Linked DNA regions of Homo sapiens: region 1 is reported to be linked to region 2. Evidence: microRNA targets listed by miRTarBase, many of them from high-throughput screens and not tested one by one. Region 2 holds a microRNA gene; the other region holds the end of a gene's coding sequence.

What was found. The annotated mature microRNA hsa-miR-5585-3p reads CUGAAUAGCUGGGACUACAGGU and lies in region 2 at 2,071-2,092, shown strand. An mRNA with a match to its seed (bases 2 to 7 or 8) in the 3' UTR can be bound and repressed. Matches are read on the target gene's strand: a 7mer-m8 pairs with bases 2 to 8, a 7mer-A1 pairs with bases 2 to 7 and ends in A, and an 8mer does both.
Region 1: miRTarBase lists PPARGC1A as a target of hsa-miR-5585-3p. Seed matches in the 3' UTR shown: 8mer at 893-900, 7mer-A1 at 1,622-1,628 and 7mer-A1 at 2,600-2,606.

Annotation. Positions count from the first base shown.
Region 1 is chr4:23,791,905-23,796,236 of GRCh38, reverse strand. PPARGC1A (PPARG coactivator 1 alpha) reads left to right here. Exons shown (of 13, transcript NM_013261.5): 13 at 312-4,216. The coding sequence ends at 415. Among named protein-coding and RNA genes, the nearest start is that of PPARGC1A-AS1, 25 kb to the right of the region's middle.
Region 2 is chr1:32,084,916-32,089,317 of GRCh38, forward strand. It overlaps MIR5585 (microRNA 5585), which reads left to right and starts at 2,034; the gene lies at 2,034-2,092. All of the region lies in intron 5 of TMEM39B (transmembrane protein 39B), which reads left to right.

The DNA.
Region 1 (4,332 bases), not on the chromosome of region 2:
CCATGGGCAAGTCATTTGACGTGTCGGGGGAAGGGGAGGGTGGTTATCTGCCAGAGATATATTAACGTGTGCTCTGCCTAACTCCCAGGGTGTTTAAGCCTAAACGAGTCAACAGGTGCGTGTTTTTGAAAGCTCACTACTCCCCATCCTCTTCCTATATATCCATATATATCCAATAAAATCTGACTATTGTTTTCTAAAGTATATTGATTGGAAGAGTTGTTATCGAATCCAGTAATCTTGAATTGGAATGATTGAGTTAATGGCCATCAGCAAAGTGTGTATCTAAACTGGCTTGTGTTTTTTTTCAGATTCAAACTCAGATGACTTTGACCCTGCTTCCACCAAGAGCAAGTATGACTCTCTGGATTTTGATAGTTTACTGAAAGAAGCTCAGAGAAGCTTGCGCAGGTAACATGTTCCCTAGCTGAGGATGACAGAGGGATGGCGAATACCTCATGGGACAGCGCGTCCTTCCCTAAAGACTATTGCAAGTCATACTTAGGAATTTCTCCTACTTTACACTCTCTGTACAAAAACAAAACAAAACAACAACAATACAACAAGAACAACAACAACAATAACAACAATGGTTTACATGAACACAGCTGCTGAAGAGGCAAGAGACAGAATGATATCCAGTAAGCACATGTTTATTCATGGGTGTCAGCTTTGCTTTTCCTGGAGTCTCTTGGTGATGGAGTGTGCGTGTGTGCATGTATGTGTGTGTGTATGTATGTGTGTGGTGTGTGTGCTTGGTTTAGGGGAAGTATGTGTGGGTACATGTGAGGACTGGGGGCACCTGACCAGAATGCGCAAGGGCAAACCATTTCAAATGGCAGCAGTTCCATGAAGACACGCTTAAAACCTAGAACTTCAAAATGTTCGTATTCTATTCAAAAGGAAATATATATATATATATATATATATATATATATATATATAAATTAAAAAGGAAAGAAAACTAACAACCAACCAACCAACCAACCAACCACAAACCACCCTAAAATGACAGCCGCTGATGTCTGGGCATCAGCCTTTGTACTCTGTTTTTTTAAGAAAGTGCAGAATCAACTTGAAGCAAGCTTTCTCTCATAACGTAATGATTATATGACAATCCTGAAGAAACCACAGGTTCCATAGAACTAATATCCTGTCTCTCTCTCTCTCTCTCTCTCTCTCTTTTTTTTTTCTTTTTCCTTTTGCCATGGAATCTGGGTGGGAGAGGATACTGCGGGCACCAGAATGCTAAAGTTTCCTAACATTTTGAAGTTTCTGTAGTTCATCCTTAATCCTGACACCCATGTAAATGTCCAAAATGTTGATCTTCCACTGCAAATTTCAAAAGCCTTGTCAATGGTCAAGCGTGCAGCTTGTTCAGCGGTTCTTTCTGAGGAGCGGACACCGGGTTACATTACTAATGAGAGTTGGGTAGAACTCTCTGAGATGTGTTCAGATAGTGTAATTGCTACATTCTCTGATGTAGTTAAGTATTTACAGATGTTAAATGGAGTATTTTTATTTTATGTATATACTATACAACAATGTTCTTTTTTGTTACAGCTATGCACTGTAAATGCAGCCTTCTTTTCAAAACTGCTAAATTTTTCTTAATCAAGAATATTCAAATGTAATTATGAGGTGAAACAATTATTGTACACTAACATATTTAGAAGCTGAACTTACTGCTTATATATATTTGATTGTAAAAACAAAAAGACAGTGTGTGTGTCTGTTGAGTGCAACAAGAGCAAAATGATGCTTTCCGCACATCCATCCCTTAGGTGAGCTTCAATCTAAGCATCTTGTCAAGAAATATCCTAGTCCCCTAAAGGTATTAACCACTTCTGCGATATTTTTCCACATTTTCTTGTCGCTTGTTTTTCTTTGAAGTTTTATACACTGGATTTGTTAGGGGAATGAAATTTTCTCATCTAAAATTTTTCTAGAAGATATCATGATTTTATGTAAAGTCTCTCAATGGGTAACCATTAAGAAATGTTTTTATTTTCTCTATCAACAGTAGTTTTGAAACTAGAAGTCAAAAATCTTTTTAAAATGCTGTTTTGTTTTAATTTTTGTGATTTTAATTTGATACAAAATGCTGAGGTAATAATTATAGTATGATTTTTACAATAATTAATGTGTGTCTGAAGACTATCTTTGAAGCCAGTATTTCTTTCCCTTGGCAGAGTATGACGATGGTATTTATCTGTATTTTTTACAGTTATGCATCCTGTATAAATACTGATATTTCATTCCTTTGTTTACTAAAGAGACATATTTATCAGTTGCAGATAGCCTATTTATTATAAATTATGAGATGATGAAAATAATAAAGCCAGTGGAAATTTTCTACCTAGGATGCATGACAATTGTCAGGTTGGAGTGTAAGTGCTTCATTTGGGAAATTCAGCTTTTGCAGAAGCAGTGTTTCTACTTGCACTAGCATGGCCTCTGACGTGACCATGGTGTTGTTCTTGATGACATTGCTTCTGCTAAATTTAATAAAAACTTCAGAAAAACCTCCATTTTGATCATCAGGATTTCATCTGAGTGTGGAGTCCCTGGAATGGAATTCAGTAACATTTGGAGTGTGTATTCAAGTTTCTAAATTGAGATTCGATTACTGTTTGGCTGACATGACTTTTCTGGAAGACATGATACACCTACTACTCAATTGTTCTTTTCCTTTCTCTCGCCCAACACGATCTTGTAAGATGGATTTCACCCCCAGGCCAATGCAGCTAATTTTGATAGCTGCATTCATTTATCACCAGCATATTGTGTTCTGAGTGAATCCACTGTTTGTCCTGTCGGATGCTTGCTTGATTTTTTGGCTTCTTATTTCTAAGTAGATAGAAAGCAATAAAAATACTATGAAATGAAAGAACTTGTTCACAGGTTCTGCGTTACAACAGTAACACATCTTTAATCCGCCTAATTCTTGTTGTTCTGTAGGTTAAATGCAGGTATTTTAACTGTGTGAACGCCAAACTAAAGTTTACAGTCTTTCTTTCTGAATTTTGAGTATCTTCTGTTGTAGAATAATAATAAAAAGACTATTAAGAGCAATAAATTATTTTTAAGAAATCGAGATTTAGTAAATCCTATTATGTGTTCAAGGACCACATGTGTTCTCTATTTTGCCTTTAAATTTTTGTGAACCAATTTTAAATACATTCTCCTTTTTGCCCTGGATTGTTGACATGAGTGGAATACTTGGTTTCTTTTCTTACTTATCAAAAGACAGCACTACAGATATCATATTGAGGATTAATTTATCCCCCCTACCCCCAGCCTGACAAATATTGTTACCATGAAGATAGTTTTCCTCAATGGACTTCAAATTGCATCTAGAATTAGTGGAGCTTTTGTATCTTCTGCAGACACTGTGGGTAGCCCATCAAAATGTAAGCTGTGCTCCTCTCATTTTTATTTTTATTTTTTTGGGAGAGAATATTTCAAATGAACACGTGCACCCCATCATCACTGGAGGCAAATTTCAGCATAGATCTGTAGGATTTTTAGAAGACCGTGGGCCATTGCCTTCATGCCGTGGTAAGTACCACATCTACAATTTTGGTAACCGAACTGGTGCTTTAGTAATGTGGATTTTTTTCTTTTTTAAAAGAGATGTAGCAGAATAATTCTTCCAGTGCAACAAAATCAATTTTTTGCTAAACGACTCCGAGAACAACAGTTGGGCTGTCAACATTCAAAGCAGCAGAGAGGGAACTTTGCACTATTGGGGTATGATGTTTGGGTCAGTTGATAAAAGGAAACCTTTTCATGCCTTTAGATGTGAGCTTCCAGTAGGTAATGATTATGTGTCCTTTCTTGATGGCTGTAATGAGAACTTCAATCACTGTAGTCTAAGACCTGATCTATAGATGACCTAGAATAGCCATGTACTATAATGTGATGATTCTAAATTTGTACCTATGTGACAGACATTTTCAATAATGTGAACTGCTGATTTGATGGAGCTACTTTAAGATTTGTAGGTGAAAGTGTAATACTGTTGGTTGAACTATGCTGAAGAGGGAAAGTGAGCGATTAGTTGAGCCCTTGCCGGGCCTTTTTTCCACCTGCCAATTCTACATGTATTGTTGTGGTTTTATTCATTGTATGAAAATTCCTGTGATTTTTTTTAAATGTGCAGTACACATCAGCCTCACTGAGCTAATAAAGGGAAACGAATGTTTCAAATCTACTTCTGCTTTTCTTATTTATCGTAACCAAACTCCTGGCATGTTTCTCAGATCAGTACCCATTACTCGCTTATTATTATTCTATTTCCTCTCTGGCTCTCTTTCCCTTTCTCCTTGC
Region 2 (4,402 bases):
ATTATTCCATTGTCTCTAGTATCCAGTGTTGCTAGTGAGAAGTCTGGTGCCAGTTTGAGTTTGATTCCAATTCTTTTATAGATGACTTGTATTTTCCTTTCTGAAAGCATTGAGGAATATTCTGTTTATCTTTTGATTACTTGAAATTTCAAAGGATGTGTCTGTTGTGGGACGTTTGTCATTCATCCTTTCAGGACTCTAGGACTTTTTTAACCTGGAGATTTGAGTACTTCTTTAGCTTGGGGAAATTTTCCTTTGATATTTCTTTGATAATATCTTCCTTTTAATTTTTTCTATTATCTCTGGATTTCTGTTCATCAGATGGTAGACCTCATAGATTGGTCATCTTTTTCTCCTATATTTCTCTAATATTTAATCTCTCTCTCTCTCTCTCTTTGTATGTGCATTGCCTTTGGAGAGATTTCCTCAACTTTATCTTCTAGCTTTTTTACTGAGATTTTTTCAGCAATCATATTTTTCATCTCTAAGGCCTCTATGTTTGCTGATTGTTCTTTTCTCATAGCATACTATTCTTGTTTTAAAAATCTCTTATTTGGCTGGGCGTGGTGGCTCACGCCAGTAATCCCTGCACTTTGGGAGGCCAAGGTGGGTGGATCACAAGGTCAGGAGTTCAAGACCAGCCTGGCCAACATGGTGAAACCCTGTCTCTACTAAAAATACAAAAATTAGCTGGGTGTGGTGGTGCATGCCTGTAATCTCAGCTACTCGGGAGACTGAGGCAGGAGAATTGCTTGAACCCGGGAGGTGGAGGTTGCAGTGAGCTGAGATTGCGCCACTGCACTCCAGCCTGGGCAACAGAGCGAGACTCTGTCTCAAAAAAAAAAAAAAAATTCCCTTATTTTCCTCAATTTTGTCTTTTCACTGGGGTCAATTTTTCTGTTTCATGCTGCTTGTTTTCCAAGTATAGTTGGCTTGTTTGCTTGTCTCTTTATATGTAAAAATGAAGGACTGAGTAGCAGGAGTGCAGTTTCTTTCTCTCTGTCATTGTTTAAGGGGGTAAGAGCTTTGACTGGAAACTTTAAGTACATGGGCAGGGCACACTGACTGGCAGGCTTTGCTTTGAGGATGAGTGAGTGAAGTGCTGGTTGTTAGGCTTTGAGCCTCCGTAGGCCAGAAAGGGAGTGGTGGGGGTGTTACTCTAAGATATCGCCATTAGAGACCTCAATTCTCAGTTTACTCAATTTCTTTAGAAAAGAATCCTTCAGGGTGTGTTGTATGAGGTGAGTAGGGGAATAAAGGGACTGACTCTTATAAATAAACATAGGTCATTGTTTAATCCCATTTATTCATACCTGCTCCCCACTTCATCTTCTATCATATGTGCCCACTTCAAGGCAGAGTCTCTCTTGGGTCACTCTGGGTAGATAAGCTCCCACCTCCAGTCCAGTTCGCTCATGCCATATTCTAGACTTGTACCGTCCAGTTGAGTAGCTACTAGCCCCCCTGGTTATTGAGCACATGAAATAGGGTAGTCTGAGTTGAGATGTGCTCTAAGTGTAAAATACACACCGATTCTGAACCCTTAGTACACACACAAAAAAGAAAGTAGGCTGGGCATGGTGGCCCATGCCTGTAATCCCAGCACTTTGAGAGACTGAGGCAGGCGGATGGCTTGAGCTCAGGAGTTTGAGACCAGCCTGGGCAACTTGGCAAAATGCCATCTCTACCAAAAATACAAAAATTAGCTGGGCATGGTAGCCTGCACCTGTAGTCCCAGCTACTTTGGAGGCTGAGGTGGGAGGATGGCTTGAGCCTGGGAGGTGGAGGTTGCAATAAACTGAGATTGCACCACTGCACTCTAGCCTGGGAAACAGAGCCAGGCCCTGTCTCAAAAAAAAAAAAAGAGAGAGAAACTGAGGCTGGGCACAGTGGCTCACACCTGTAATCCCAACACTTTGGGAGGCCAAGGCAGGGTGGATCAGGCCCAGGAGCTTGAGACCAGTCTGGGCAACATGGCAGAACCCTGTCTCTACAGAAAATATAAAAATTAGTTGGGCATGGTGGCACGCACCTGAAGTACCAGCTACTCGAGAGGTCAGAGGATTGCTCCTGAATAGCTGGGACTACAGGTGTGTGCCAGCACCTGAGCCTAGGAGGTAGAGGCTGCAGTGAGCCATGATTATGCCACTGCCCTCCAGCAGCCTGCGCAACACAGCAAGACCCTGTCTTAATTAAAAAAAAGAAAGTAAAACATCTCAAAATATTCATTATATGTTGAAGTGATAGTATTTGCATGTATTGGGTTAAGTAAAATAGAATCTTAAAATTAATTTCAGGAGGCTGATGCAGGAGAATCTCTTGAACCCGGGAGGGGGAGGTTGCAGTGAGCCGAGAATGCACGACTGTACTCCAGTCTGGGGCACAGAGTGAGACTCCGTCTCACAAAAAAAAAAAAAAAAAAAAAAGGCCGGGTGCGGTGGCTCACACCTGTAATCCCAGCACTTTGGGAGGCCAAAGCGAGCGGATCACCTGAGGTCAGGAGTTCGAGACCAGCCTGACCAACATGGAAAAACCCCGTCTCTACTAAAAACACAAAATTAGCCAGGCGTGGTGGTGCATGCTTGTAATCCCAGCTACTAGGGAGGCTGAGGCAGGAGAATCGCTTGAACCTGGGAGGCAGAGGTTGCAGTGAGCCGAGATCATGCCACTGCACTCCAACCTGGGCGACAAGAGTGAAACTGTCTCAAAATAATAATAATAATAATTTCATCTCTCTTTTTTTTTTTCTTTTTTTTTTGAGACGGAGTCTGTCACCCAGGCTGGAGTGCAGTGGCACAATCTCTGCTCACTGCAAGCTCCGCCACCCAGGTTCACACCATTCTCCTGCCTCAGCCTCCCGAGTAGCTGGGACTACAGGCGCCTGCCACCACGCCCGGCTAATTTTTTGTATTTTTAGTAGAGACGGGTTTTACTGTGTTAGCCAGAATCGTCTCAATCTCCTGACCTCGTGATCCATCCGCCTCAGCCTCCCTAAGTGCTGGGATTACAGGCATGAGCCACCACACCTGGCCCATCTCTTCTGTTTTTTAATGTGGCTAAATTATGTGACTCTGGTGGCGGGCGCCTGTAGTCCCGGCTACTCAGGAGGCTGAGGCAGAAGAATGGCGTGAACCTGGGAGGTGGAGCTTGCAGTTAGCTGAGATCTCGCCACTGTACTCCAGCCTGGGTGACAGAGCCAGACTCCATCTCCAAAAAAAAAAGCCAGGCACGGTGGCTCATGCCTGTAATCCCAGCACTTTGGGCGGCCGAAGTGGGCGATCACGAGATCAGGAGATTGAGACAATCTTGGCTAACATGGTGAAACCCCGTCTCTACCAAAAATACAAAAAAATTAGTCGGGTATAGTGGCGGGCGCCTGTAGTCCCAGCTACTCGGGAGGCTGAGGCAGGAGAATGGTGTGAACCTGGGAGGCGGAGCTTGCAGTGAGCCAAGGTCTCGCCACTGCCCTCCAGCCTGGGTGACAGAGCCAGACTCCGTCTCAAAAAAAATAAAAATAAAAATTATGTGACTCATCTTTCTGTTGGAAAGCGATGCTCTAGACCATGACTGCTTCTTCGTCTGTCATCATGTCTCCATCTGCTTTCTAAATTTGTCAGAATCATTTGTGCACTGATGACCCTCACTCCCATTTTTTTTTTTTTTTTTTCTGATACAGATTTATTTTCTACTTTGATAGACTCACATGTAGGGTGGAGGAGGTGGGAGGGAATCTGCTATCATGCATATGAAGCTGCTTCTAACTTCTAACCTGTCAGAGCAGTCTGTCACCAAATAATTTAATTGATCATAGGACCTATCTGCAGTCCTTCTTAGAGACAAAGCCAGCGAGATTCTTTAAGTTTAAGCTGGAGACCTTTGTATGTTCACATAGGTGCCCCCGCCCCCTCATTACCACAAGATACCCTGAAGAGTATTTCGGGAATGCCATTTTAGTCTTTTTTCCTGTCCCCATAGAATCACTGGCCTCTTCCTTTTCTAGTCAAAATTCTATTGATCATCTATTCTGGGCCAGAAACTATGCTAAGGGTTGTTGTAGGACTAAAAGACAGTATTTATGAGAAAACTAGTGTAATACCTTGCTGAGAGTGGGATCAATACAAGCTATGTAATTTAGGGCAAGTTAAGGAAACTGAGGCTCATAGAGGTTAAATAACTTGCCATAAATCACAGAGCTAGTAAGTGGCAGAGCTGGGAATTTTTTTTTTTTTTTTTTTTTTTTAGACAGGGTCTCATTCTGTCACCCAGGCTGGAGTGCAGTAGTGTGATCTCAGCTCATTGCAGCCTTGAACCCCGCTAGGATCAGGTGATCTTCCCACCTCCACCTCCCAAATAGCTGCAACTATAGGCATGTAGTCTGGCTACTTTTTGTATTTTTTGTAGA